5 separate regions of the Homo sapiens genome follow, and all the other regions are linked to region 4. The links come from fine-mapping of genetic effects on gene expression. A gene starts in region 4. Each other region holds a variant in brackets. All regions are shown on one strand. Distances are between the middles of the regions. Region 1 has its middle 34 kb from the start of MTUS1-DT. Region 2 overlaps PCM1 (pericentriolar material 1). Region 3 overlaps ASAH1 (N-acylsphingosine amidohydrolase 1). Region 4 holds the start of ASAH1 (N-acylsphingosine amidohydrolase 1). Region 5 overlaps ASAH1 (N-acylsphingosine amidohydrolase 1).

Evidence for each region. PIP is the estimated chance that this variant, and not a neighbour inherited with it, causes the effect. A credible set is the group of variants that fine-mapping cannot tell apart.
Region 1: its variant is the best candidate, but not a certain one, in a credible set for the expression of ASAH1 in whole blood (INTERVAL, PIP 0.59).
Region 2: its variant is the best candidate, but not a certain one, in a credible set for the expression of ASAH1 in fetal neocortex (Walker 2019, PIP 0.81).
Region 3: its variant is the best candidate, but not a certain one, in a credible set for the expression of ASAH1 in blood mononuclear cells (TOPMed, PIP 0.66).
Region 5: its variant is the best candidate, but not a certain one, in a credible set for the expression of ASAH1 in whole blood (INTERVAL, PIP 0.54).

Annotation. Positions count from the first base shown.
Region 1 is chr8:17,832,104-17,838,186 of GRCh38, forward strand. No RefSeq gene overlaps it. Among named protein-coding and RNA genes, the nearest start is that of MTUS1-DT, 34 kb to the left of the region's middle. The variant T/C (reference allele first, on the strand shown) is at 3,362.
Region 2 is chr8:17,927,153-17,933,235 of GRCh38, forward strand. All of the region lies in intron 2 of PCM1 (pericentriolar material 1), which reads left to right. Among named protein-coding and RNA genes, the nearest start is that of PCM1, 7.2 kb to the left of the region's middle. The variant CTT/C (reference allele first, on the strand shown) is at 2,949.
Region 3 is chr8:18,052,881-18,058,934 of GRCh38, forward strand. It overlaps ASAH1 (N-acylsphingosine amidohydrolase 1), which reads right to left. Exons shown (of 14, transcript NM_177924.5): 13 at 5,955-6,011; 14 at 3,112-4,743. The coding sequence ends at 4,654. Among named protein-coding and RNA genes, the nearest start is that of ASAH1, 28 kb to the right of the region's middle. RefSeq lists an enhancer at 736-1,309. The variant G/A (reference allele first, on the strand shown) is at 3,722.
Region 4 is chr8:18,081,160-18,087,242 of GRCh38, forward strand. It overlaps ASAH1 (N-acylsphingosine amidohydrolase 1), which reads right to left and starts at 2,948. Exons shown (of 14, transcript NM_177924.5): 1 at 2,822-2,948. The coding sequence starts at 2,899. It overlaps ASAH1-AS1 (ASAH1 antisense RNA 1), which reads left to right and starts at 3,709. Exons shown (of 5, transcript NR_125429.1): 1 at 3,709-3,780; 2 at 4,083-4,326; 3 at 5,724-5,777; 4 at 5,866-5,978. It also overlaps the pseudogene MRPS18CP3. RefSeq lists enhancers at 2,405-2,514, 3,315-3,594, 3,395-3,930 and a silencer at 2,865-3,064.
Region 5 is chr8:18,060,359-18,066,441 of GRCh38, forward strand. It overlaps ASAH1 (N-acylsphingosine amidohydrolase 1), which reads right to left. Exons shown (of 14, transcript NM_177924.5): 6 at 4,099-4,173; 7 at 2,827-2,872; 8 at 1,921-2,065; 9 at 1,328-1,382; 10 at 1,019-1,100. Among named protein-coding and RNA genes, the nearest start is that of ASAH1, 21 kb to the right of the region's middle. The variant C/CTT (reference allele first, on the strand shown) is at 3,112.

The DNA.
Region 1 (6,083 bases), 250 kb before region 4:
ATCACCAAGGAGATGGCGCTGAGCCATTCATGAGGGATCCACTCCTGTAATCCAGTTGCCTCTCACCAGGTTTCACCTCCAACGCTGGAGATTACATTTCAACACGAGCGTCGGAAGGGACTAACATCCAAACTATATCAGGAGGGATGGCGGGAGGAAGGGAGGAGGGAGGGAGGGAAGGACAGAAGGAACGGAAGGAGGAAGGTTGTTTACTACACTACCAGCCTCAAAAGGAAAAATGTTAACATAGATTGCATAGGGTTTTGCAATCATATACACTCATTTTAATACCTATAATCTTTATTCAGCATTTTAAATTAACTGTATCTATTTCCTATTTATGCCAGCTGAAGAACATGTGGCTTTGAATTATTTCAAATGCAAATTTTTTTCCCCATTTTATCATTTTGTTGGCTGTATTGGTTTTCTATGGCTGTTGTAACAAAATACCACAGATTTAGTGTCTTAAAACAACGCAAATTTATTCTGTCACCATGCTGGAGGTCAGAGGCTAACATGAGTCTTAAAGGGCTGGAATCAAGCTATTAGCAGGACTGGTTCCATCGAGAGGTTCCAGGAGAGAATTCTTTCTTTCCCTTTCCCATTCCCTCTCTCCAATATGTCTTTGGCTTTGCCTTCTGCTCTAACAGAGTCCAATTTGTCCCTCTGTTTCTTTCTTTGAAGAAAACCTGTGATTATATTTAGGACCCATGGGGCTAATTCAGTATAATCTTCTCATCCCCAAGTCTTTAACTTCGTCACACCTGTGACATTCCTTTGCCGTATAAGGGCACACTCATGGGTTCTGGGCATTAGAACATGGACATTTTAAGAGGCCATTATTAAGCCCACCACATTGATTATTCTAACTATTTAGTCTCTGTCCACCAGACCACTGAAATGAAATATTTGTCATTATAATAATTTATATTTTTATTATTTTACTCTTAAGGTGAATTTACAATACTTTATTTCAGATGAATTAGAATATTTAAAAATATGAAGACTAAACTTATACTTAATAAGTAATTAGACATACTTTTTTTTTTTGAGACAGGGTCTTGCTCTGTCTCCCAGGCTAGAGTGCAGTGGTTCAATCACTACTCACTGCAGCCTCTACCTTTTGGGCTTGAACAATTCTCCTACCTCAGCCTCCTGAGAAACTGGGACGACAGGTGCATGCCACCATGACCAGCTAATTTTTTTTTATTTTTCCTGCAGATGCAGTCTCGCTATATTGCACAGGTTGGTCTTGAACTCCTGGGCTCAAGCGATCCTCCCGCATCAGCCTCCCAAAGTGCTGGGATTACAGGCATGAGCCACTGAATATACTATTTATATATCATTTATAAATAAATATATAATATATTAATAATAAATCTGAACTTCATAAGACTATTCAATCTGAAGTTTTTTCCGTTAGTTTAGTTCTCTTTATACTTAAGATTCTAGCCAAAGAGTAACTATGAAAAGTAATAAACAAGAATCAGAGTTGGAAGATAGTGTATCCTATTCTAGTTGCTTAGTCATTCATTGAACAAATACTTACTTGGTCCCAAGTGCTATTATAGATACTGTCCAGCAAAGAAGAGTGTACTTCCATTTGCTCTTCTCTGTTATGGCAGATTGTTTTTGCCAAGATGGTTATAACAACACCTCCCGTTCTACCTGCTCATCTTATCATGCAAGTTGTCACTCTTCACTTTGAGAGATGGGGACTATATTCCCTTTCTTCGAATCCAGACAGGCCTGTGATATAGCAGTTTAGCCATGCGACTTCTAAGGTTAGGTCCTACAAGTTAACACAGATTCTGCCTGGCTCTCTTAGGACGATCAGTCTTGGAACCCAACTCCCACACTGTGAGGAGACTGAGGCCACATGGAGAGGTGACTGTGTTCCATCACGTGGGTGTCCCAGGCAAAAGTTCAGTAGCATCAACTCACCAGCCAGATATGTGACTATGGAAGCTTTAGAGAATAACTCCATTATTTCAGTTGAACCCCAAAATCATGAGAAATAGTAATACAATAATATAGTTTTTCCTAAGCTGCTACGTTTTGGAGTGATTTGTTATATGGTGACAGATACCCTGAATATCTCTTACCTACTCATTTTATGAACATACACGAAACTTACATTTCATAATATAATATATAAAATTGAGAATGAGCTCACTTCCTACCTATTTTATTAAACTAAATGATACCATGTATATGTCATTCTTTCAATGTCAATGAAAAAATAACAAATTAAATTCAAAGTGCTTTCTATGTGCCTTTTAGATTGTTATTGAGGAGATAAATGGATATAAAAAATCATTCAAGCCGGTCACGGTGGCTCACGCCTGTAATCCCAGCACTTTGGGAGGCCGAGGCGGGCAGATCATGAGGTCAGGAGTTCGAGACCAGCCTGACCAACATGGTGAAACCCTGTCTCTACTAAAAATACAAAAAATTAGCTGGGCGTGGTGGCGGGCACCTGTAGTCCCAGCTACTCGGGAGGCTGAGGCAGAATGGCGTGAACCCGGGAGGCAGAGCTTGCAGTGAGCCGAGATCGTGCTACTGCACTCCAGCCTGGGCAACAGAGTGAGACTCTGTCGCAAATAAATAAATAAATAAATAAATAAATAAATAAATAAATAAATCATTCAAGCAAGAATTTCAAGAAAAAATGGAAGCTTCATGACTTGCTGGGGCAAAATCACTATTGCCTTTGTTTTTTTCCTTTCTGTCTCATTTTTAAGCCATCTGACTTTCAAAATTACCCTGCAAACTCTGGTGCTCTTCTAACTTTCCTCTCTTCATGTGTGTCACCATCATCCATGCAGTTACTGAAGCCAGAGGTTTTAGAAGTTGTCCTTGACCTCTCTGTCTTTCACATCCATATCCAATCTATCACTAAGTCCTGACCAGTTCTTCCCAAAGAACTTCGGAAGTTTTCTGCTTTCCATCTCCCCTGACATGATCTCAATTCAACAGAAACCTATCAATTGTTCTCCCCAAATTTCTAGTCCCCACCAATCCTTTGCATCAGAATGCAAATCTGGTCATGTCACTGCCCTGCTTTCCTTTTTTTGAGACAGAGTCTCACTCTATCACCCAGGCTAGAGTGCAGTGGCATGATCTCGGCTCACCGCAATCTCTCTCTCCCAGGTTCAAGCGATTCTTGGGCCTCCCAAGTAGCTGGGACTACAGGCGTGTGCCACCATGCCCAGCTACTTTTTGCATTTCTAGTAGAGATGGGGTTTGCCATGTTGGGTAGGCTGGTCTCGAACTCCTGACCTCAAGTGATCCGCCTGCCTTTGCCTCCCAAAATGCTGGGATTACAGTCAAGAGCCACTGCGCCCGGCCCTGCTTCATT[T/C]CGATGGCTTCTCAACGCTCTCAGAGAAGGAGATCAAATCCTAAATGTGGTCCACGAGGCTTTGGATCGTTGGACTCCTTTCTCCCTCTCCAGGTTCTTCGTGGCAGCTTCTTGCCTTGTATTCTAGCCATAATGGCCTTTTGTCATTTCCCTGTGTCTTCCTACCTTGGAGTCTCCTTGACTAAGATCCCTATGCCTGAAATCTTCTTACGTCATTTTCTTTGTTAATATGGTTCTCATTTAACTGTCCAAGCCTCCCTTAAAAGATTATTTCATCAAAGGATTCTTCCCTAACCCCAGCCTAAGTCAAATTCTCTGCATTTTTACATCTACTGTACTGTGTCACTAAAAAATATAACAGGAACAAAAAACCAATTCATAAGATTTCATATTTTTTTCCACCACCACAATCACTAAAGAAAACTCTCGCCAGGAGGTAGCTTCATTTGCATTGAGGATAGAACAGATGGAAGAAGAGGAAAAGATAGGAGTAAGAGGTCAAAGAGCTAAGAACTTCTCGGGCCAACGGTCAGGAAGAACTTAGGAAAATTCATTTTTATCAGTGAGTAACTGGAAAGAGAAACACTGAGAATGTAAGACACAGGAAAAGATGTTAAAGCTTTTCTGTTTTGCAATAAGATGGACTCTCTTGGGTATTTTCTGAAGAGTTGCAATAAAGTTTTTTTCTGCTGGACTGACCAAGAGAGGGGCTGCTTTATATAGTTTATGCATATTGAATATTAATTTAACAACGCTGTCCTCCTCTCACCTCCACTTACATACAAACTTTATGTGGTCAATGTCTTGTTTTGCTTGTCATTGCAACCTTGGTGTTTACACAATTAGTAGTGGGGGCTGAATCAATATTGATTGAATTAATGTGTGATTTAGGGCAATTTGCTTAACCTCTCCAGACTTCAATATTTACCCCCTCCTCCCACCTCCAGAAGCCTGGGATAGCCTGAAACAGCTAATTACAGTTCTGATATTTCTCTGGAGTTTCTTTGAAGTTTCATGTTTTGTCTAAAAAACTTGTTTTATGATTCATTTTACAACTTTAATGTTAATATTCCATACCATTATATGTCAGTATTTATTTAAAATTAAAATAATTTTATCTCATGTCTTCTAACAAAAGGAATGGCATTGTACCTATTACCTCCAGTGCTATACAGACTTCAAACCAGTTTGACAAACTCAAGGATTCATTAAATAATCACAAAGGCTCTCTTTGAGCCAAAAGTTTTATGACTCTTGGCTTCTAACAAGTCGAACAGCTAATATTTACTGAATTCCTTTTATGTTCAAGTCACAGGGGAGAATACAAGGAACAATGAGATGAACTGCCTTGGAGATGCAGTTATGATGACAAGTCATGCATATGTACAAAGGTAATATTGTGAGGCAGTACAGACTGCCAAGTGAGTAGAGCAGCTTGTTAATGCAGAAGAATCCAGGATGACTGAGCCCTCTAGGCCTCAATTTCCTCACCTGAAACATGGGTAACCATGCTTATGCTTTTATATCACAGGATGGCTATAGAGGTCAATAAGATGAAATGTACCTACATACAAATTAGAAAGCATCTTATTCTCGGAGGGTTTCGATCACATGGCAAAACCTTGAGATGGAGTAGGAAACAAGTTGATAGACGAGCATAGCAGAACGGCCTTCATGAAGACACAGAAAAAGAAATATACCACAAAGATACAGGAAACTAAAAATGACAATCTTTATGGGGTGGAAAGCTCAATCAAGTGAGATAGCTCTGAAAAAGCAGGATATTGTGGGCCTTGAATTCTAAGTTAGGAAATTTAGAATCACTACTGTAGATGTCATTTTCAAAAGATAAATCCCTTGGTACATAATTTGGTTCATATTTTGAGACAGCTGGGAACATTTGGCACAGACAAAAGGGCTATTTTAAATGCTTTGACTCCTTTAAAGAATATTAAAGGGACACGTGAAGAAATCAGATAATTGCTTGCAGGGATCAAGTGTCAGGATGGTAATATTGCTAAAAGAGGAAAGAAGAGAACATGGTTGTTTTTTTGAGTTAAAAATGAACTGGCATTATGCCAGATGTGGGCAAACAGAATAGAAGTAAATTTGAAAGGAGTTTCAATATAACTCTTGATGCTTGGAGGCAAAAAGCAAATGGCCTTCAGCGTAATTTGGAATAAATTCTAGCATTATTGGATGAACAACACATGGCTTAAATTTTAATCCAAAAGCTCAACCAGCTCTCTAAGATGAAAGTGTGGCATTGGTAGAAGAATGAGTTTTTGGAAAATAATATAGAGGAAATAGTACCTGGTGTTGGTGATAACTCTATATATTCAATTGTTTAAATGAGATTTTTGAAAGTCAACTAAAAAGAAAATACATTGTTAGTATACAGTATTAGCATTTGTTTAATGGAAGAACGTAAGTGCAAAACAAATCTTTATTTTAAGAAGTTTCCAGAAAGCACATCTCTTTTGCAAAATGTGGAAAAGCCCACCAGTGTTGAAACCATATACCTTTGAGTGCTCTTAAAGATGGCTGCATTTGAACACTGCATATTGTGCTATAATTTGTGTAGAAAAGAAAGAATACATCTACTTGTTACTATGTTAATAAAATAACCCTGGAAATATACAAAACTAACCTATCATCTTGGTTTGCCACTAGGACATAGGAGTGAAAGGGAGAAATTTCTTAGGTTTTTTTTTTTTCGTTT
Region 2 (6,083 bases), 150 kb before region 4:
GTCTTGCTCTGTTGTCCAGGCTGGAGTGCAGTGGCATTATCTTGGCTTACTGCATCCCTCTCCTCCCGAGTTCAAGCAATTGATTCTCCTTACTCAGCCTACCAAACAGCTGGGATTACAGGAACGCCCCACCACACGTGGCTAATATTTGCGTTTTTAGTAGAGGCGGAGTTTCGCCATGTTGACCAGGCGAATCAAGTGATCCGCCTGCCTCAGCTTCCCAAAGTGGTGGGATCACAAGTGTGAGCCACTGCACCCAGCCTGATTATTTGATTACTTTGAATTTCTTCTTTACCTTATATTCTTATTTCAAAGGTAAACTGTAGTCATAGGTATTTTCATGGTAATTAATACTGTGATATTCTACTGTAATATGTCTCTATAGTTAGAATCCTGCAACGGGATGTTCTTTTTTTTGGCGATGGAGTCTTGCTCTGGCACCCACTGGAGTGCAGCAGCGCAGTCTTGGCTCACTGCAACCTCTGCCTCCCAGGTTCAAGTGATTCTCCTGCCTCAGCCTCCCTAGTAGCTGGGATTACAGACGCGTGCCACCACGTCCGACTAATTTTTGTATTTTTAATATAGATGGGGTTTTAACATGTTGATCAGGCTAGTCTTCAACTCCTGACCTCGTGATCCGCCCGCCTCAGCTTCCCTAAGTCCTGGGATTACAAGCGTGAGCCACCGCGCCCAGCCTAACAGGATTTTCTTAAAAAAAAAAAAAAAAAAAAGTCATTGAAAGTAGCTTAAAATTGCCATAGTATATTTTCATTTTTGTGTCTTTGTAAAAAAAAAAAAAAAACCACTAAGGCTGTTAAAAATAGCTAAATGAAACTTGAAAGTAACAGTTTCAACTTCGTTTAGTAAGGCATAGCATGAGTAGAAGTGCGTGTTTAAAGTAGAAGGATTTTATTTTTATCCCCGTTCAGCTACCCGTAGTACTGTCATCAATCACTTCTACCAATTGTTTTCCTACAGTTTCAACTTTCTTATCTTACTGTCTTTCTGTTTAACTTGCATGGCAAAATTTCAACCTTGGGTGGATTCAGTGGAGTGTTTATATTGAGGGATATGAGCACTGCTGGAAAAAAATATCTGTAGTATGTGTTATATGAGTGAATAGTCTCTCGTTTCCCTGAGTCCGTAGTGCTGCCCACGGTCATTCTCCATTCCCTACTTTTCTACGCTCTCTCAGACACTGCTGTCTCACCCTCACATTTAATGTACAGTCCTTCCTACTTCACAACACTTAGGAACACCTTTGGTTTCCTACCACCACATCTGCTAAGCAGCCTCCAACCCATTCCATCCTTTCTTGGTTTTTTTCAATTAAAGAGATGTTCTTCTTCCTCTCTAAAGCTAATCATTTGTCTTTTGCTCTAGACCCCAATGGCCCCCGCTTTCTCAGAGCCCACATGCTAGTTGCTTATCTCCTTTCTCTTCTGCATTTTTAGTATCTCCCTCTTTTTTTTTTTTTTTTTTTTTTTTTTTTAAAGTGAGGCGGAGTTTCTCTCTTGTTGCCCAGGCTGAGTGCAATGGCACTATCTCCGCTCACTGTAACCTCTGCCTCCCGGGTTCAAACGATTCTCCTGCCTCAGCCTCTCTTGTAGCTGGGATTACAGGCATGTGCCACCATACCTGGCTAATTTTTGTATTTTTAGTGGAAACAGGGTTTCGCAGTTTGGAACAGGCTGGTCTCAAACTCCTGACCTTAGATGACTCACCCACCTCAGCCTCCCACAGTGCTGGTATTACAGGCGTGAGCCACCGCACCCGACCAGTATCTCCCTCCTTACCAACAAATTGTAAACGTACTCAAGATACTTCTATTTTAATAAAACTTTCCTTATGACCGTCTGTGCTTGCTTCTCATCATAGGCTGATTCCTTAAAAATATTAGCTAATGACTTTCTTTATTTTTTCCCTCTTCCTTCCAATAATACATTCCAGTTATGGAATTGACCCTCACTACCCCTGCTGAAATTTCTCACCAAAGTCAACAGTAACCTTGTTGCTAAATCTAGGAGGATACTTCTCAGTACTTCTCTTATCTGGCAAGGTAACTGTTTGGTTTCTTATCACATTCTACTTGATACACTTTTCCCCTTTTGGCAGGCTCTCCTGGTTTCCCTCCTGTCTTTCTGTACCTTATTAGTGTATTAGCGTGTCCTTTTCCTCTGCCTCTCTATTTAATACCAGTGTATTTAAGATCTGGTCTTCTCTTACTCTTTATCGTCTCCCTGAGTCCTCTGTCCCACTTTTTGAGTGGATGACTCTCCAGCCCAGATTTCTCTGTTGAGAGATAGATCGCTATTTGTCAACCGGACAATTTTATTGGGTGTATTATAGGCACATCAAACTCTCCATTTCTAAAACTTGAACTCATCATCATCCTCTCTCAACAAAGAAAACTTGTTTCTTTTCTGATCAGTTTAACTGTGTGTCACATACCCAGTTTCTAGCAACCTTTATCCTTTATCTTTTAACTCTACTATCCTTTAACTCTTCTGCTTCTTTATCGCCCGTGTTGTAATACAGTAGTCTGCCCTATTCTGTGTGGGATACCTTCCAGAGACCCCCAGTGCATGCCTGAAACTGTGGGTAGTACCAAACTCTATGTGTATGTTATTTCCTGTATGTATGTAACTGTGATAAAGTTTAATTTATAGATTAGGCTCAGTAAGAGATTAACAATAACTAATAAGACAGAATAGTCACAACAGTATACTGTAATAAAAGTTACAAGAATGTGGTCTCTGTCGCTCAAAATAACGTACTTTACTCACCAGTTTCCTGACCATGGTTGACTATGGGGAACTATAATCCTGTAACACAAAACTGCAGATAAGGTGGGGACTATAGTCACCAACTCCTATTGATCCTGCACAGCAGTTTTGCTTGAATTGGTATTCTGTACATCCTTAGTCTTTTCGTTATTGGAATACTTC[CTT/C]TTTTTTTTTTTTTTTTTTGAGACAGAGTCTCGCTCTTCCGCCCAGGCCGGAGTGCAGTGGTGTTATCTGGGTTCACTACAAGCTCCGCCTCCTGGGTTCACACCATTCTGCCTCAGCCTCCCGAGTAGCTGGGACTACAGGTGCCCGCCACCACGCCTGGCTAATTTTTTGTATTTTTAGTAGAGGTGACAGGGTTTCACCGTGTTAGCCAGGATGGTCTCGATCTCCTGACCTCGTGATCCGCCTGCCTTGGCCTCCCAAAATGCTGGGATTACAGGCGTGAGCCACTGCGCCTGACCGTTACTGGAATACTTTCTGTACTTGTAAGTACTAGTTTATATTAATGTGTTTACAGAATAAAATTTAGAAGGCAGAGATTCTGTATTTGTAATGGTGACATTTAGGTGGTTAAAGAGGTTGACATGAAGAGAAATAACATGCCATTACTCTTATGAGGGAGATACTTAGTATTTTTGGGAAATGTTGTGAATGTGGCCGGGTGCGGTGGCTCACGCCTGTAATCCCAGCACTTTGGGAGGCCGAGGCGGGCGGATCACGAGGTCAGGAGATGGAGACCATCCTGGCTAACATGGTGAAACCCTGTCTCTACTAAAGATACAACAAAAATTAGCCAGGCGTGGTGGCGGGTGCCTGTAGTCCCAGCTATTGGGGAGGCTGAGGCAGGAGAATGACGTGAACCTGGGAGGCGGAGCTTGTAGTGAGCCCAGATGGCGCCACTGCACTCCAGCCTGGGTGACAGAGCAAGACTCTGTCTCCAAAAAAAAAAAAGAATTCATCCATATGCAATTATTTCTTTAGCTTCATACTAATAGTTTTACTTTTTAAAGGCATACTAATGCTGTGCCTTTTAAACACATTTGGTGTCATCATTAAGTTACAAAGTATTCTACCCCCTATGGCAATCACAGTGTAACAGTGGATGAAATTGTTCATTTTGCCAACCTGATAGATTAGACTTTAGTAAATTTTGTTTTAAAAAATACTAAAAAAATCATCTGTTTTTCCCAAACTAATTAGAGTGTACAGTTTTAAAATTGTTTTAGAAACTTATTTTAGTAGTGTTCAAAGTCGTTAGCCAGAAATAGGTCTTTGGAACAAGCTCTGCATTTTAGGGGGAATTTATTGTGATAGGGAAATAGAATGCGTAAAACATTCTTTCTCCAGATATATTCTTTTTTTTTTTTGAGATGGAGTCTTGCTCTTGCCCAGGCTGGAGTGCAGTGGCGTGATCTCAGCACACTGCAACCTCTGCCTCCCGGGTTCAATTGATTCTTCTGCTTCAGCCTCCTGAGTAACTAGGACTACAGGCGTGTGCCACCATGGCTGGCTAGTTTTTGTATTTTTAGTAGAGATAGGATTTCGTTATGTTGGCCAGGCTGGTATTGAATTCCTGACCTTGTGGTAACGCCGACCTTGGCCCAGATATATTCTTAATACATTTATCTTACTTTACTATTACTTCATTATTCTATTAATAGAAAGTATTGCTAACATACTCTTTTAAGATAAAAATGATATGTAATAATTTTGACTTAAATATCTTAATTTTCCCTTCCAATTTACGTTTCAAAACAATTGCTTTTAGTACTTTTAAATATGGCATCACTTCTGTTGCCTGGCTGTTTTATTCTTCAGTATTACAAATTATGTCAGTATATGTAGAATACAGTAGTTGCAAAATGTTTTATTTAAATGAGTCATTTTGGTTCACTGGATATACTTCTATGGGTATTATTTTTTAAAGTTTTAAAATATATTTCTAGTATAAATAATTACGTAAACTGTTCCTGAAAATATGAGACAGAAAAAAAGAAGAAAAATCACCAGTGCCTACCCTGTAACCAATAATTGCTTTTGTGAAAGCACTTTAATAAAGTTTCTTAGCTTTTGTTTAAAAAAATTTATGTATAATTTTTCATACTGCTTTTTTACTTTTTTATATTACTTTTTCCATGATACACCGACAGGTTATATTGTCCAGGCTTCATAATTACATATTTTGAAGGGTACTTAGTATTCTACCCAGCAAGTGTAGTACAGTTTGCCTAATAGCATTGATTTTGTCATTTGACATTTAGTGTTGTTTTTTAATTTATCACAATTATAGCGTAATAAACAACTTCATTATAGTTCTTTCCACCATATTTAAGGTTGTTTTCTTAGATTGCATATAGAGAGGTAGAATTACTGCGTCAAAAATTCAGTTTTAGTTCTTGATACAGTATTGCCAAAATGCTTTCCAGAAATGTTATACTGGTTTATATTCTCAATGTAGTGTCTGAGAATTCCATTTTCCTTTTACTGTCATTAGGATTAGATAATATGTAATTTATATGAAAGTTAGCAAATTTAATAGTTTCTTATTTTAATTTGCAGCTGGACTTTATATATTCGTATTTTTTTTTGCAAACTACTTGTTTTGCTTATATTTCTCCGGTTTTATTTTTTTAAAACAAATTCTCTGTATAACAAAGGTATTAACTATACTTAGTATTTCTTTGAGATTTTTTTTTCTCCCAAGCTCTCATTTACTATTCTCAGCACACTTAGGAATTTACTTTTATGTGAATAAAATCTGTTGAACTTTTTATTTTTTATTTCTTTGTGTTCTAAATTTAGTAAGTTCTCTGTTTTTAAAAACCATTCAATTTTCTTGTCTTTTTAAAATCTTAATTGATGTTTAAAATTCTGTTTTAATCTTTGACTATTTTGATAGTATGATATAAGGCAGCCTTTCTCAGTTGGGAGAGAATTAAGCTCCAATACCCTAAGGCATCTGTTGTTTACTGTGAATTAACTTTTTTTCTGTGTGTCTGGGATGGATGGTACTGGATATGTACCATCCTTGGGAGAATTGAGAAAGTAGTGACTCAAACGATTTTTCCCCTCTTCTATGATTGAGGTGAAGAATACCACTTAAGGAAGACTGTTAAAGCTCTAAATGTATCTTTTTCAAATCTGTTAGCAAATTGTTGTATCAGTGCTCACTCCTACATCATAGAATTGTTGTGAGGCTTTAATGACATAATGGACGTGAAATATTTTAGCATGGTGTTTGGCATGTGGTAAGCAAAATAAAATGCGTTAGCTGTTACTAGTTTTTCTTACTAC
Region 3 (6,054 bases), 28 kb before region 4:
TCTTGGGAAGAGTTTTGAATTCAATCAAAATTGCCATATCGGCCAAGCATGGTGGCTCACGCCTGTAACCCCAGCACTTTGGGAGGCTAAGGCGGGCGGCTCACTTGAAGTCAGGAGTTCGAGATCAGCCTGGCCAACACGGTGAAACTCCGTCTCTACTAAAAATACAAAATTTAGCTGGGCGTGGTGGTGGGTACCTGTAATCCCAGCTACTCTGGAGGATGAAGCAGGAGAATTGCTTGCACCTGGGAGGTGGAGGCTGCCGTGAGGCGAGATGGCGCCACTGGACCACTCCAGCCTGGGCAACAGAGCATGACTCTGTCTCAAAAAAACAAAACAAAACAAAACAAAACAAAAAATTCCAATGAAGTATTTTAAAATAACAATGCCCTATTTTGCAGAAAGCACTTGAATTGTTAACAACAGTCATAGGCAGCCAGCTGAGATGCCTCCAAATTGGCCTGTCAGCTACAAATGGACACAGTAATCAGATACATGTGAAGTGAATGTTTGGGATGCTGCCTGGAGCTGAATCCACCAGGAGACCGCAGTGCCTATGCGCCTCCCTCCCACCTCTGCAGCAGGGCTGTGTGCGGCATTCTGCGCACCTGGAACATAAACTCCAGTTGTGCCACAGGCCGCTTGTCTGTGAGATCTGCAGGCCAGCTGCTATTGCTCAACCTTGCAATGGGAGCAACAAGTTCCAGGTGTTATTGCTGCCACTGACGACCGGGACGACCAAGCCAAGTTTGGGTCTTGGTGAAAAACAATTGGGGGGGCCCCCAGTGAGGGCTGAATGGTTAAGTTTCCTTATGAGGATTTTGTATTTGACAGAGGCAAAACCTAGTTGGCCCAGGTCTCTTCTGGTCCACAGGGCCAGTGATTTTTACTAACTTTCTCCATACCTTGCATGCCCCACACCTCCCTTCCCAGCCTGTGAGAACACAGAGGGATGCAGTCTATCCCACTCTGTCTGTATTAGTCCGTTTTCGCACTGCTAAGTTATAAAGTAAAGAGGTTTAATCGACTCACAGTTCCGCATGGCTGGGGAGGCCTCAGGAAACTGACAATCGTGGCAGAAGGCAAGAGGGCGGGAGACGACGCCTTCACAAGGCAGGAGAGAAGCAAGTCGGAGAACCAGGAAGCACCACACTTTAAAACCATCAGCTCTCGTGAGAGCTCACTAGCTATCACGAGAACAGCATGGGGGAAACCACCCCCATGCTCCAATCAACTCCACCTGGTCCCTCCCTTGACAAATCGAGATGAGATTTGGGTGAGGACACAGGCCCAAACCGTATCACTGTCCCAGTCTGCCCTTCAAGGAGCCCCAGAGGAAGCCCGGGCTGTGGGAGGCAGCCTGGAGGCTGGTATGCCTAGACCCTGCCCAGCTGCCCCAAAGCTGCGGCCCTGTGAAGGGCCTGAGATTTTACCCTGCTTGCAAGCTAATGACCTAGCCTGCCACAGCTTCCTGGATGCTGGCAGACTCCTGGGCCAAAGGCAAAGGACTGTATTGCTCTGGGAATGCCATTTGCCCCCCACCCCAAGTCCCCCAAGGAGGTGATGTGTGACAACCCAATTTATGATGTATCATCTGTATCACAGCTGAGGAACCCCAAGCTCAGGAAACCCCTCGAGTTATAAGATGGGCTGCTTCTCCAATCAACTCATCCAACCTTTGCCCTACAGGTAGATGATGATCTTTATTACCGTAGTCAGGAAACAAATCTGTCCTCTGCCTAGACAAGCATCCTTGAAGATGTCCAGAACTGCCACAGAGAATTGCCCAACGCACACCAGTCTAGCATCCCCTGTGCCACCTGGCTGGGAAACCCACTTTATCAACATAAGAGGGACAGAGTGCCCTAGGGAAAAAGAGAGGACTGATTTTCATGTGAGCTGAGCAACCTCCCCAAGTTGTGAAGGTTGAGGAGCCCAGCCACACTTCCCCAGGCTTGTAGACGGGGCCAGCATGCAGCTCGGTGTGGTCTGGAGCCTGCTGGTCACATCTGTCATATGTGAGGCTAAGCTGGCAAGTATTTTGTAAATTGTCACCAATAAACAAAAACTATGCTTCACTTTGTGAGACTAACTTCAATAATGACTGTGTGAGGTTTTATAGTGACTTTTTATAAATTTCTGAACTATTCATATTTTTCACGTACTCCTGGGTCACAGCCACAGAAAGACTGAGGAGCTCTTAACGCATTCCCCACAAGCTGAGCACGATTCAGACTCAGGGTAGTCAAAAACAGGTGACCTGTCAGCTCCTAACACCAAAGGGTTTCTGATCCCTATGGGAACATTAATAATTGACACAGAACAAGTAGAAGGCAGTGACACAGTGGTGTCCAGGCTCAGCAGGGTGGCCTGGTCCATGGCAGCAGAAGTGTGGGTCTCATAGGACAGAGCTGTTTCTCAATCCTACTTGTAAAGTCAAGAATTCGGGTGTCATAAGAGCGCAGGAGTTGGACAGACCTGGCTAAAACCCTGGCTCTAAGCCCTTCTGTTAATGCAACTTTCAGCAAGTTACTTCCATGGCTGGCAAGTGTGATTACAAGTGATACCGGGGTTTGCTGAGGAGGTAATCTAGGTCAAGCACCTTATCAATCACAAGGCCTGGTACATAAATGGATAAGCAAGAGCTCTAATTAAGATGAGTGACTGAGGAGCTCGATGTGTGAAGGAATACAGGTAGGATTCAGCCTTCCATTCACAATCAAACTCCCGAAAACTTGGCAGGGAAATTAGATGGAGCCCATGGTTTGGATCCAACCTGGACCTTATTTTTTTATAGTATTTCTAAAAATAGAGTCTCATTAATGTCCAATGGCTACTAAGTTTTGTCCTCTCAAAATTAAAATAGCACTTGCCATTATCCAGTAGGAACTACAGTCAGCATTTTGGTTAATATCCTCCCAGTCATCTTTTGATATTCTAGATGTGTATCTAGTTATGCATAAGTACATATATAAAGTGTTATATAAACAGGCTCATCCTGTATATCCTATTTTAAAACTGCTTTACCACTAAACAATTACTTCCTAAAATCTTAATACCTGTTATTTCTTGTAAACTTTGATTTACTCCGGAGAAATCGGTCTGAAACAATTAGCATCTCACCTCTTTACTATCAGGCATATCAAAGGTTATTACATTAACAAAAAAATACATCAAGTTGACCTGACTTCATTTATGTAAGAGGTAGAAAATCTGAGTAAAGTTTTTTTTTCATTAATTAAATCCTATTTTAATGTAAATCCTCTTATAATTCCTCGTTTCACTAAAGTAATCTTGGAATCACTAAAGTTTTGTGGAAGCACCACCTATCTGGGGGAAAAACTGCCTTTAAACACCTGCAAATTGGGTTGATAGTATCTGGTTAAGAGGTGGTATCAGTCATGTAAGAGTAAGATTGTGACCGTTTAGTCATATTTAATAACCCACTTACATAACCCTTGTTATTTAATTCAGATACGATGTTCAGCTTGTATTTCTTGATAATAACCCCCCTCCTCCAAACCAACACAGATGTACACACCCAATCAGCGTGCATGACTGCTGACTGGCACTCTTTCCAGTGACTGTTTATTGAGTGTCAGGAACACAACTGTGATTATACAAAATGAAGTGGACAAACGGTCTTGCACAAATGACGTACATTTCACAGTTAATCGTGAAGGTTAGAAAGGTTAACAAGTTCTATTAGTACTTTTCATAA[G/A]CAGTTTGATTTCTGAAAAATACAGTAACATAATTTTAGTAACTACTAAAATTTCTTTAAAACTCCCTATCAATCTGAAGAACAAACTAAAAACCTGTTTATTACATGAATGCTACTTATGAGAATTTAAAATATGGGTTCACTTCCTATTTTCCACAAGTCTTTGACTTGTTTATTTACTAAATTAACAGAACGTGGGATGCAGTTTTTTAAGTTAGCAACTTCCTTAGGGTTACTGGGAAGTAGAGTAATTATGAAAAAGGGAACACTTCAATTATTGTATAAAAGATTGCTTTGCATACTGATTACTTCTTGAACCCCAAAAAGTGCTATTTAGAGGCAAGGGCCCATTTTGTGCCCATTAAAAGAAATATACAGGTGAATGTCTGTCTCATCCCTCTAATCATATGTAATAAAATTATATCGCTGTCAATAACAGCAAAGATAATGATATATTAATTTTAACAGCAGTTAGAACCAGAAGGAAAAGGCTGTTATACAGAAAAACATACAAATATGTAGGTAGAAGTGAAAAACTGAAGAATGTGGAGTGTTTACTGTCCCGTTACTCACACAGACGTGCTGGATTCAACACCCACGCTGAATCTCCATTTATTCCACGGAGGTGGAGTTCACCATGGTTCGACTGCCCACCAGATCCCCAAATGTCAAAGTGAAACAAAACTCAGTGAATTCTAGATGACTGTTTTACTTCCCCTAAAGAAGTTATCTGTAAATAAGAAAAATCAACTGATAGGGGGAAAAAAAAAAGATCTGTCATTTGTCAACAGATGGACGAAGACAAGCTATTGACTCAAAGAGAACCTGCCGCGAGTCTTAGTCTTTGGAAGGTCAGACAGCTGCAGTGTTCGGTCACATGGAGATGGTGTCTTCATGTCTCAGAGGCCGCATTCTGTAGGCCAGACGTGTGCTCACCAACCTATACAAGGGTCAGGGCAGTCCCGCAGGTAAGTTTCGAATTGACCTTTGGTAACATCTATCAAGGTTGTGTATACGGTCAGCTGAAAGAAAAGTTATTTTTACTTTAAGGACGTTTTCAATTCAGAGATGTTCTGATATATATTAGCATTTCTATACTTGTAGAATTTGCTTTAGAAGTTATTTAATATTAAATAATATAACTTAATATATGCAAAGCATGTTATATAATGTATATATTTATATTAATATAGTATAATCATATAAAATTAGCTAAAGTCTCACCAAATAACTAAAGCAAACAACTTCAACAGGATCACTGTTTCAGGTAATGAATATAAACAGGCTCAGGAAAGAATCTCCAGCTCCTTATAGGAGCTTATTCCTGACAGCACATTGCTCCACCCCCAATGCTTTAAGACTGCCTTAACCCTCCTTGACGCACAGCTGGCAGTCCTGGGAGACCTGCCGGTGTCCTATGGAGTAAAAACCGTGGAGCTTTGGCTATCCCTATCCTTAAAGCATTTCCAATACAGTGGGGGAAACTGCAGGCACCCAGATCACAAGGCACACACCCAAACACAAGTCACGAGATTGTGACTTGCTCAAAGATGGTATAGGCAAAACGCAAGTATGGCAGGGCCCGTGAACTGAAGGCAGGCTTCCTGTGAGAGCCAGGGTGACCTGGATGCTAAAGGCCGGAGGGATTTGTCCTGGCAGGGTAAAGGCGGCATGTTTACTTTAGGGAGAGCTGTGGAGAAGGACCAAGAAAAGAAGGAACAAATGGGAAAATTAGGGGGGCATATTCAGAACGTTCAGGGAATGATTGTTAGCGAGTGGTGGGATGATAGGAAACTTTTTGCATTTTTTTAAAACTACAGTGTAGGGAAAAGATAAACAGATGTAGTAAAGTTTAAGGGAAACCCGAACCCACCAAGACACAGAGCTCTGTCTGAAAATGGACTGCAGACTTTGTTTTGTTGACATTTAGGTGTTAGTTATATAGTGTGAGATTTTTAATAGATACCAATAAGAGTAAAATGCTAGCCTTAATTCAAATGCTATGTAAATAAAGCTATAAACAATATTCTGACCTATCAAGCCTCAGTGATCAATTTCTTTCTTGTATTCCAAAATACAGTTTTAGCCACACAAAAACATTTTTTAATAAAAAATCAGTCCTAAGCTGAACACACCTTTTGTGCTCAAACTGATCAAAGATAACAGAGAAAGATAAAACATAGGGCCAAATTCTTTCCCTAAAAGGCAAATATACATATAACATTTAAAATACCTTGTTGAGGACAGGTTTTGTTGACAGGACATCATACATGGTTTCAAATGAGATATTCTAAAACACAAGAAAATAGTTTTGTTCAGTAAGTTAAATACAG
Region 4 (6,083 bases):
GATGCCACCATTCGCCCAGCGAAGCACTTCAGCAATGTGCAGGTCACGCTGACACCTCACTCCCTCATCCTCACCCAACGATTCCTTCAGCTCATTCGCCCTCCTGATTTTTTTCTAGAACATCTACTTCTCTCCCTCACCCCTGGCGCCACCATCCTTCAACGCACCCTGTTTTCTTTTCTGGACTAGTCTCCTCATATCTACCCTTGCTGACCTCCAATCCAGACTCATCTTTTTAAAGTGAAAATGTTATCTTGTCTAAAACCATCTAATGGCCTCCCATTGGCTGGTTCCAGATCCTCCCATTTTTTAGGATAAATTTCTGAATCCTTAATAAGAGTCTACAGAACCCTGGATGATGTCATCTGGCGCTATCTCTCCAGACATTTCTTGTGCCACTGTCTTCACCATCATCTCTTAATAGACTCCTAAAAAATTCAATAATGAAGAATAACTCAGGAGGACCTTCACATAGGAATATTGTGAAAAGCCTCAAAAACAAACACACAAAAAATCCTTACAGATGTTCTAAATCAAATGACTTGTTTCCAATTTAAAGCTGCTTCTCATTATTCATATTTATTGAAAGTACTTTTGAAATATCTTTTGTTACCATGAGGCTATAGTTTATCATATAATGACTCCAGTTGAAAAACTGCTTATTCTTCTCAGAGAATGAAGTCACTAAACTTCTGTAAGGTTCTAAAGGTCCTTCAGTGCATGGATCCCAGGATTTTCCAGGCCAGTAAAAAAAAATTAATGAGGCCTTGGCACAGGAGGGTCCAAATTTTTATTCTGCCAAATGGAGATGTTAAAACAAAACAAATTCCATGCACATAACATCTACCTCTGCCGTTATTTTTAAGAACACGTTTGCAACAATGAAAACTTGAAGTCCATACAATCAGAGTAAAGATTAACATTCTAAATTAATAATTTTAGTTTTGCATTCTTATTTTTCCAGTTTCATTGAAAACCTGTGAAAACAGCTTCCCAAAGTGACACCAGTGGCCAGACTAGACTTTGATAATCGCTGTTCTAGATAAGAACTATTATATCCATTGAGAGGTTGTTAATTCTTCTTCTGAAAATAGCTATCAAAATACTTTTGCTAGAATAAATAAAGCTATTGAGAAAGAAGAAAAAACAGCCTCCAACACCTGAAACTGCTCTGAGTCCCACAGCTATCTCTCAATATTATTACAAGCCGATCTGACACTCACAGCCAGGTAAGCTCTGTTTTCCTCCTGGACATCAACAATCCCACAGATACCTACGTCGGATAAGATTATTCTGAGACATGACACACCAAGACAAAGCAATGCCACTTGAAGATTTTCTCTAAGAACAGACAAAAACAAGGGCACCTGCAACGCACAAAACACCAAACATCCCCTTCTCGTGCTAAACAGAATGGCTGTTCCTTCTTTACTCAGTCAGAATTGCCCCACCTTCTAACAGCATTCTATCTACAGCAAAGCCCGGTTCCTCAGTCTTACCCCAAATCATGCAACCGAAGTTCAAATTCTGTAATGGGTTTTTTTCTATAACCTACCGTCCGTCGCTCATGGTGTGTGGTCTCCTTTGCCTCAAAGAACACTAAACCCAATTTGTTCAGCTTATGGTGTGTTCCTGGTGGTCTTTCAATGAAGGGCCCTGACAGTATCAAAGTATCAAAGTCTCTCCCAATTCCCATAAAACCAACTACCGTCAAGCAAATTAATTCCCTACCCACAATGGAGCAATTTTATTTTAAGGCCTTTAATCGTGTCCACATACATGTTCTGTGTATTTTCCTATTACAGGAAAAACTGTATATACTATTCTGGATTCTACTTTTATCTGCTGAACATTATATCAATTTTAATGGCTAAATCATATCCCACCATGATTTTAAAGAATTTCTCCTTACAGGTATAAAAGAAGACAATGCACATCTTGCTTCCACTTTCAATAACCTACCTAAACTATTCAAGACCATCACCATCTAGCCTCAGGCCAGATGCGCCAGGTTCCTACTTATCCGATTCTGTTGGCAAAGACAAACGCAGTCTGATTGCTTTATAAAGAAATGAATTATGAAAGAGTACTGGGCGTCAAGAGGCTCGGACGTTACGCATGTTCAGTAAACAACAGTGTAACCTCTGGCTAAATATTTTCTCACTCTAGGTCTACTTCCTCTTCTGTAAAATGAAAGAGTCACGCTCGTCCCTCACTGTCTCTTGCAGTTAGGAAGTCCGTAGCCCTGTGACTTGCTCGTGGGAAAGAGCCACGGGACAGGCGATCCCATGACTTGGGTGCAAAAGGCCACAGGGGGCCCTTTGGGGCCTGCTCTGGGCTGCTCGCACCGCCCAAGCTTGGGACCACTCAGCGTTTCCCACGGCCCTGCAGTATCCTGGGCTGAACTCCTGAACTTCTTCGGGAGAAAGCACCTGACCATCAGGCAGTCTGTCCTTGATTGAGTAATGCACACAGGTCCACCGGAACATTTTATTTAAACACTTCAAAATGCAAGGGCCTGGAACTGGTTATTCAAGTACACTCACTCAAATCTAAGAATGTGCGAATCACACCCAGGTATCCTGCAGAGACTAGGATTTCCTTTAAAGGAGTTCTAGTTGCAGGTAGCACCGAATCTACCGAGGACGGGGTTCGCCAGCCCGCTCTGCACCCACACCCCTGTGCACGAAACCACAGACCCCCGTAAAGAAGCTGCCCAGCACGAGGTGTTCCTTGTACCCGCTCGCGCCGCCACACCTGCGCCTCCATCCGCGCCCGCACCTGCACGCCCCTCTCTGCGCCTCGGCTCAAGCTCACTCACCGGCGGCGCGTGCTGCGCGACGGCACAGCTGACGGCGGCAGCCAGGAGGACTAAGGCGACGCAACTCCGGCCCGGCATCGCTCTAGCAGCCAACGCCACTCCCCGGACTCCAGCAGAGGCAAAGAAGAGCCGGCTGGGCCGGGGGCAGGCCACGCCCCCTCCGCCGCGTGACCCGCGACCTGGGACCGCACCATTCCAGGCAGTAGGGGGAACGCTCGGAGGAGGCGGGACTGGGAGGAGAGGACGGGGCTTTTCAGTGCCACGAAAAGGGTGGCGTAGAGAAAGAGAGAGAGCCTTCCAGGCTACCTGCAGAAGGAGAGTCGCGATCGCCTTTGGCGCGTGGCGTGATCCATCCCCCTCCCCCACCGCGGGCAATAGTCGGACCGAGCCGGAGCCCCGCCCCGTAGGTGGGGCCGGGAGCTTCACCCGTGGCGCCTCGATGGGGCGCCTCTAGCAGGCGGGTGCAGCCTGTCCCGCGTACCCAGGCGTCCTCGGTACCCACGAAACGGATCCAAAGAGTCTCAACACTAATGTAACATCCCACCCTGACCCATCTTTGCCCTCTGAGAAAAGCGGCCCGAAATGAGTTGAGTTATTCATCCCCACCGCGGAGTCAGGGACAAGGAGCAGTTGAGTGGCCGAGGAGTGAGAGAGAATCGAATCCACTCGGGTCCTCCAAGCTGTTGGTTACCCACTTGGGCTTTCACAGCAAAGCTGCCAAATCCCAGAATTGAGGCCTCGGTGAAAAGCGCGCTGAGACTTGGGTAGGAGGCCCGGTGGGACCCGCGAGCTTTCTCTCCCAGCCCGATGCAGCAGTTCATTAAGCGGCTGTGTTTCCTCCTAACTGGCGAAGGACTCAGGTGGGCGGAGCAGAGCTCAGCTTGGGAGGAGGCGGACGCGAGTAGCTCGGCAGGGGGACTCGCTTGGCTTTCGTGCCATCCGTGGACACAGTCGCGCGGGTAGGTGACCGGGTTGGATTTCAAAGTCCAGCAGGAAATCCTGCCCTCTGGGTTGCACTTCCTGGATGAGCCTCTGACGTCTCAAGCAGCATTGTTTTAATGCTTTGATGAAGCTCAGCACGCTGCCGAAATCTCGGCAGTATTTTTTCTTTTCTTTTTGCATGTGAGAGAAAGGACAACAAATTGCAGTTTTATCCATTTGTATTATTTCTTTAGAAAACTCAACACTCTTTTTGTTGGAGGTGGGGAAATGAGAAGGTGATGTTTTGTTTTGCTTTTTTTCCTATTTTTTTTTTTTAAAGGAGGAGAAGATGACAGTGTTCTCCCTAAGGATGAAGTTTGACTTTTGAAACATATCACATGCTTAAAGCACATTTGAGCTCCTGCATGAACAGTAAGCTAGCAGATGGTAGAAATATTCTTTATTAATTCAAAAAATATTTACTGCGGACCTACAATGTGCCAAGCATGTCTCCTGACACTGGGGATAAGCAGTGAACAACAACAAAAAGACAAACTTCTTCCACCCTGAGGCGTATGTTCTCGGTGAGAAATGGGCAATAAACATAATACCTAAGAAAATTATACGGGATGTTAGTGACAAATGCAGTGGAGGAAAAGGGAGGCCAGGGGCATCAAGTGTGGAGATCAGAAGTGGTAGAGTTACAATTTTAAATAAGAGGGACAGATAGACATGATTAAGGAGGTGAAGTTTGAGCAGACAGTTGAGGGAGACCAGGAAGCTAGTTTTGTGTGTGCCCAAGTAAGAGTATTCTAGGCAGAGACAGCAGCTGTTAAAAGGCTTTAAATGGAGAATGTGCCTGGCATGTTCAATTACAGCAGACGTGTGTGGGTCTGGCACAGAAAGAACAAGGGGAAAAGAAGAAAGAAGTATTAATAGACAAAGTATTTAGTTAAGGAGAGCAGGGCAAATTCTGTAAGGCATTCAGAGCCATTTCACTCCGGAAAAAAAATGTGTAATATTGAATATACGTGTTAAATGTTGAATCTATGGAATTACCTTGGAGCTTAAAATGAGTGTGCGAAGAAGAGGATTCCCATCTTTTAGTTGTTATTACTAAATCAAATAGCTACTTGATTGGAAGATCATTCATCTTCAGTACTCTTGAGAGCGATTTAAACATGTCACCAAGCATATTTTTTTCCCTACTGGAGGATGTTAATTGGTGATTAGGTAGTCTAGCAAAATCAGATTCTTTATGGAAAAAATTTGTCAATTGACATACTATTCTTAGGCACCACTTTCGCAGAACTATGCGTCTAACTTTCAAAGGTCTATTATATATTATTAATACTCTTTTCAGATAAAATATAAATCTAGTTCCCTAAAATTAAACCATTTCATGCATGTCTTTTTTTTCTTACACATATATCTTTATTTTGCCTACACCATTCTTTAATACTAGAAATGTACAGAAAGTCAAGGCAAGGTGTGTGTAGGAGACTTTGCAGTGGTTTTTGGCATACTGATCTGTTCATAGAAAATGGTATTTAAATGTGCAAATGCATGATTATGTCCACGGAAAGGGTGGTTCATACTGCACAAAAGCATCAAGTTTAAGACTTGGATAACCTGTTTCGTGTGCAAGAGTCGGGATATGTAATCAGATTGTTTATGGAATAGCTGAAGTTCTTGGCAAGCTGTGGACTTCCTCATCTCCTACCTAACATTCCTAGGTTCCTGAGGTGGAGCCTTGATTTAAAAGGGTTGCAACTTAGCCACCCCACCCTAAATGAAACCTATCATGTATAACATCACATTACCTGGAACAGGTTTGACTTGATTTAGTAAAACCGAATATACAAAAACGTGTACTAAAAGGTCAAGAGATAGAGAAATAATGTTTCAGTTTGAGAAATAAACATTTTTTTAACTTTAAATATTGACTTTTTTATGAATAAGGAAGCTTTTTATTTTACAGGTCTTTGTGGGAAGAAACAAATCACAAAAGCAATTAAGAGAGCTCAAACAATGGGTAAGAAAGAGCACCTCAACAACTGTATTGAGCTAGCTGAAATTTTGCTCATTATGCTTTGTCAAGAACTTTAATTATCTCTTTACAGGGTTTATGCCAGTTACATACAAGGATCCTGCATATTTCAGGGACCCTAAAGTTTATAACATCAGATATCCGGAATAAATTCCATCACATTACCACCAGTAAACTTATTTTATAGTAAGTGGTTGTATGACGCCAATACTGACTCAAACCAACCTTTGGATAGAAAAGTGTTTCAGGAGTGAGGTAAAGAATGACACTTCCCCTTCATACCAATCAGTG
Region 5 (6,083 bases), 21 kb before region 4:
GTGAACACTGAGATGGGAAGCGGGAATCTTAGGAAGCCCCTCTAATCTGAAGGAGAAACAAAGTGGCCTCAAGAGATCATCTTCCACCCTTACTGTCCATGCCTTTCACTCAACAACAGAACAAAGGGAAATAATATTACAGTATGTAGGACTTAGAGAACAGAAAGTAAACCTTCTTGAAAATTAGGACTATTAAAAATTGAAGTGGGTTATCAAAGAACACTACTAACATTAAATCTTATTCCCTGGGAAGTATTAAAAATAGGATTGATGCCCATTTATTTGGACGCAGTGCTGGCTGAATGAAGGAAAGGCAGTTTTGCTATTGTAAGATTTCTATACCAAGGCAAGATATAACTTACAGGTTAATATGTAGTACATTTTGTATTTATTTATTTTGTTTTTTTAAGACAGAGTCTCACTCTATCACTCAGGGTGAAGTGCAGTGGACTGATCCCAGCTCACTGCAGTCTCGACCTCCTTGGGCTCAGGTGATCCTCCCACCTCAGCCTCCTGAGTAGCTGGGACTACAGGCAGGCACGTGTCACCATGCCTGGCTAATTTTTGTATTTTTTATAGAGACGGGGTTTCGCCATGTTGCTCAGACTGGTCTCAAACCCCTGGGTGCAAGTCATCTGTCTATCTCAGCCACCCAAAGCGTGAGGATTACAGGCATAAGCCACTGTGCCTGGTCTGTACTACCATTTAAATGAAGATTTTACTGTATGACTGTTCTTTTGTGTGTGGGTCATTTTTTTTCTGTACACCAAAAATATTCATAGGTGCCTTTCATAATGTCAGTATCCCTAGTGCTTTTTAAGTAATTCATTTATTTGCTATAAAACACACAGTCTGCACGAAGAAAACATGAGTAATTCCACATGAGTGTCAGAGGTTCACCTAAGAAATTCTGCAATAGTTCCTCAAAGGATTAAGCTGGAGCTTGACAAATATTTTTATTTTTTAATATGAGTAATTTAAAATAAATATTTAATAGTAAAGCAACGAAACACTTTACCTTGTGCTATTTTCCAGAACTGTTCTAGTGAGGAACCCTATCCACATGACATCTTTCTTTCCCAGAATCCATTCTAGAATACCTGGAAGAGATGAACACAATGTCAGGAACCGGAAGAGGTGACACTATGTAACCAGTCAGGACCCGGAAGAGGCTGGACTATATAACCAGTCAGGAACCAGAAGAGGTTAGACTTTGTAACCAGTCGGGAACCGGAAGAGGTTGGACTTTGTAACCAGAAGGCACAGTCCAGCCTTCCTCATAAAAAAGCTCTGAGATTCCCATTTCACTTGAGAATGCTCTACTTACCCAGATAACCACCATTTATACTGAAACGTTCATTCAGTGTAAGACTGAACAGTCCCTGAGAAAAAGACAAAGCAACGAAGTCAGAAACATCAACCATGCGCTTTAAGGCCCTGTCGCTCACTGTACTTCAGAGTGGGATATAAAGGCCTAGCTTGGGTAATGGGGAAGGCAAAAATAAATCAAAACCATAAAAGGCTTTTTAAAAAGTTCAAAGCATTTTTGATTCTAGTATGTGAGATAAGTAGGTGGGGTATCACTGGCAACGCTTTTTGGACAGGAAACTGAAGGGCAGAGAATGAACGCCTGACTTGCCTAAGTGAGCGGAAGACCCAGGACTAGAAATCAGATTGTGACTCCCAGCCCTTGACACCCAGCCACATGCTCTTTATCCCAGAAGAGGCTCAGAAACCTCCGTTTCCTTTCTACTCTTCTCTACCACGAGATCTCATACCTATGAAGTGACAAGAAGTACAAGGGGGTGAAATGGGGCTTCATATTCCCTTTAGGTCCTCATATTCTTAGATTTCAACTTTTACATAACGGTAACAGGACAGAAGGCTACCTGTATAATTATGTAACAACAGACTCCTTACTGGTTTGAATCCTGTTAACATGCCCACATAGCCAGCAAAGCTTGAAGCCTTGAAGACAGTTTTGTTGTTTCTTTGGAAATCCAAATTCACTGTTAAAGGTTTTAGTTGCTCAGTTATGACCCAGGTATCATTATTTATGTTCCACCTATAAAAGACATGTTTCAGTGACATTTCAGAAACACAGTGATAGTAATGATCAACATGATGATGAGGGCCAGGCATTACACTAGGAGCTTTATTTACCGAGTCACCACGATCAATCCTAACAAGACCTTTACAATATGGTATATTTATTCTGTTTTCCAAATGATAAAATTGAGGTTCAGAGAAGTCAGGTAACTCTCTCAATATCACACAGCTTATAAATAGTGAGCCTCAGATTCAAACATAGAATGCTAATTACAATATTCTTATTTTTTCAGAAAGGTCAAGATGGACACATAAAATAGAAGAGCATGTCCCTCTTGTCTCAGCACTCAAGCAATCCATTTATCTTCACTTATGATCACATTTTGGGTGTGACTTGGGACTTACTTATCATCAATATAACACAACCTACTCTTCCTACAGACCAAAACAGTTCTGTGTTCTTTTTTTTTTTTTTTTTTTTGAGATGGAGTCTGGCTCTGTATCCCAAGCTGCAGTGCAGTGGCGCGATCTCGGCTCACTGCAACCTCCGCCTCGCAGGTTCAAAAAAGTCTCTGCCTCAGGCTCCCAAGTAGCCGGGATTACAGATGCCCACCACCATGCCTGGCTAATTTTTATGTTTTTAGTAGAGACGGGGTTTCACCATCTTGGCCAGGCTGGTCTTGAACTCCTGACCTCGTGATCCACCCGTGTCAGCCTCCCAAAAAGCTGGGATTACAGGCGTGAACCACCATGCCTGACCCTTTGTTCTTTACTTACCCAAGAAATACTCCAAAATCCATGTTTCTCCCATGTATTAGATGACCTATTTGAAGGTAGACAGAAGAGACGTGTAATAGCAGTTAAGATTCTAAATCAAAGCTGGACAATTAATTTTGATTAATTAATTTATTTTTGAGACAGAGTCTCGTTCTGTTGGCCAGACTGGAGTGCAGTGGTGCGATCTCAGCTCACTGCGACCTCTGCCTCCCAGGTTCAAGCAATTCTTGTGCCTCAGCCTTCCACGTAGTTGGGATTACAGACATGTGCGACCGCACCTGGCTA[C/CTT]TTTTTTTTTTTTTTTGTATTTTTCTTTTAGTAGAGAAGGGGTTTTACCATGTTGGCCAGTCTGGTGTCAAACTCCCAACCTCAGATGATTCGCCCGCCTCGGCCTCGCAAAGTGCTGGCATTACAGGTGTAAGCCACTGTGCCTGGCCTCTAATTTTGATTAATTTTTATTCACAACTGTTTCTTCAAACAATAAGAAGTAAGAAACATCCTAATATCCTAAGCCTTCACCAGATGGGACTGTTGTCACCGTCTATCTGCCAGATAACCCCACAAAATCTGAGAGCACGGGTTTCCAGGTAAGATCAGAATATGGGAAAAGGAATCAATGGTCATGTTTTGGTTCACTATCACATGGTTCTACCAGGACACAGAAATCGGAGCCTCAATTACTGTGATTCATCAAATGTTTCCCTTCAGGCATCATCCCCTAGAGCAGGACATCTCAAGGGTAAGGTACAGGCAGATTTATACCCAGAGTATAGGTCAAAGATCAGGGTGAGTTAGCGAAGTTGTCCTGTGCTTTGTACTCTGGGAACCAGTCAGGAAAAATACGGGAAAGTGAGGCTGGTATCCATTGGGTTGCCTGGCTGGGAAAGGATGGGAGAATGTGTGTTCTGGGCCTCAAGAAAAGGACAGATGTCATGACATACACGAAGATAAGGAAGCACCTCCTGCGAGCACTTCCATCAAAGCATGTAGATGGGTAGAAGTAAACTATGAGGAAGAGAAGAATGTTTCTAGCCCTGCAACATTTCTTCCAGGTTTTTTGCATGTCTGAAATCAACTTTAATAGGCAGTACAGTAGTCTGAAAATAAGGAAAATTTTCAGTACAATCACAAAATTTTACCAAGAAATAAAAAGCTGTATGCAACATACACAGAATTTACATAGCAAGCCCAAATTTCAGAAGTTCTAATTTCATTTAGAAGATTTTTCTTTATGTAGTGCTTCATGCTGCCCACCCTCCCTCAGCGCACAATTACCTTTTTTGTCTTCTGCTACTATTGAAGTACAAATGGTAAATAATTCATAAAAAATATTGAATGAAATAATCTCTCCTATGAGAAAAGAAAATTTTGTGTTAATATACAGAACCATGACAATGGGAGAAAAATTTGTTTTAAGAAAAAGTTTCAGTGTTTTCATTGTGTGAGTGTGTGCTTTGGCCAGTGGGGCTGTGCTGGAACGGCCGGCTGGAGGTGGTTTTCTTCCCCAGCCTGGACTCTCTAGACTCAAGATGAAACAAGTCACCAAGGAGGCAGCCTTCGGGCGAGCTGAACATCTGGGCAGGTTGCAATTGTTCTCCAACATCACATCCAAAATGTTTATCAACATGCTTCATTTTGAATTTTCTTTTGGGAGCGTAAATATGATCATTTAATACATCTGGCTCTTGGCTGTTTGCTGGACATATATTTTGCCCAGATTTTTAAAGTGTGACTAAAATTTCTAAGGTGAAAAAGGAGATTCAAGAACTATTAAAATTAGTACAGAGCTGCCAAGAAACTCCATTCTAGGGTATTTTATTTTTTGAATATTTTCCCAAAATGTATAATACTGCTATTTAGCATTTAATTCAAAAGTAGGCAGCACATTGTATTTCTGTCCCATTTAACATTAACATGTTAAGCTCAACATGTTTTTTTCACCCAAATCCAATGTGTATTTTATTTCCATTAAATTTCTAATTTGGTGAAATTCTAGTTATTTTATTATACATTTATAATAATTTATAATAATTATATAAATTTACACCACTTATACATCATGTTATTCTTCTTAATCCATAAGGTATTTCTATTTGGTATTGAGTTGCTAGAGTTCTTTACATAATAAAGGAATTAGACTTGCTTTCCATAAAGGCAGCAAGTACATATTTCCAGTATGCTATCTTTTAAATGAGTTTTTTAAAGAAGCAGCACACAAAACTAGCCACTTTTGTTGATAAATACTACTGATTTTCACAAATTCTCAATCATCTCATAAAATGAAGGTACTGTTGGCTATTTAAAATAATGACACTACTGCTTTGCTAGCTTAAAGATAAAACTTTTGGGGTCGTGGGGAAAATATTTTTCGTTACATGCCATAAAGCTTAAATTGAAATTTTAAAAATAGCTTCCCAAACCATCAATATCTAAGAATAATTTTAACGAATGGCATGTGAGGTCTTCTCCCTGAAAATAAAAGATACTGCTCAGAGAAATCAGTAACTTAAATAAATATTGAGAAAAACAAAGTTGGAAGAATTATACCACCTAATTTGAAGACTTACTATAAAGCTTTAGTAACTGAGGTGAAATAGTATTGATATAAGGGAAGACAAAAAGACAAATATGTAAATGAAACTTAATTCCCCAAACAAAACAACATATATACAATCACCTGATTGTATATACAGATACACATTGTGTGTGTGTGTGTGTGTGTGTGTGTGTATATATATATGTATTGTATATTTATATCAAAGACACCACTGCAATTTGCTGAGGAAAGGATAGCCTTTTGAATTGATGCTGTTTAACTAACTGGATATACCACATGAGAAAAACCTGAAGCTTGACCCATAAGTCATAGCATATACAAAAATAATTCAAAATAGATGATAGGCCTAAATGTAAAAAGTAAACATTAAACATCTAGAAGAAAATATATAAGCATATATATATGACTTTGGGGTAGGCCAAGATTCCTTAAATGGATACAAAAGGCACTACTCATAAAAGAGAAGACTGAGATATTAGACTTCACTAAAATTAAAAATTTCTGTTCATCAAAAGACAAAAGTAAGAGAATAAAAATGAAGGTCATAGACTGGGAGCAGATATTCAGAATCCATATATCTGACAAAGGGCTTATATTCAAAGTATGTAAAAAATTCCTTCAATCTAATTTTTAAAAGGGCAAAAGACCTTCACAAGCCCTTCTCCAAAAGAAACAAAGAAAACCAAAAAAAAAAAAAAAAAGT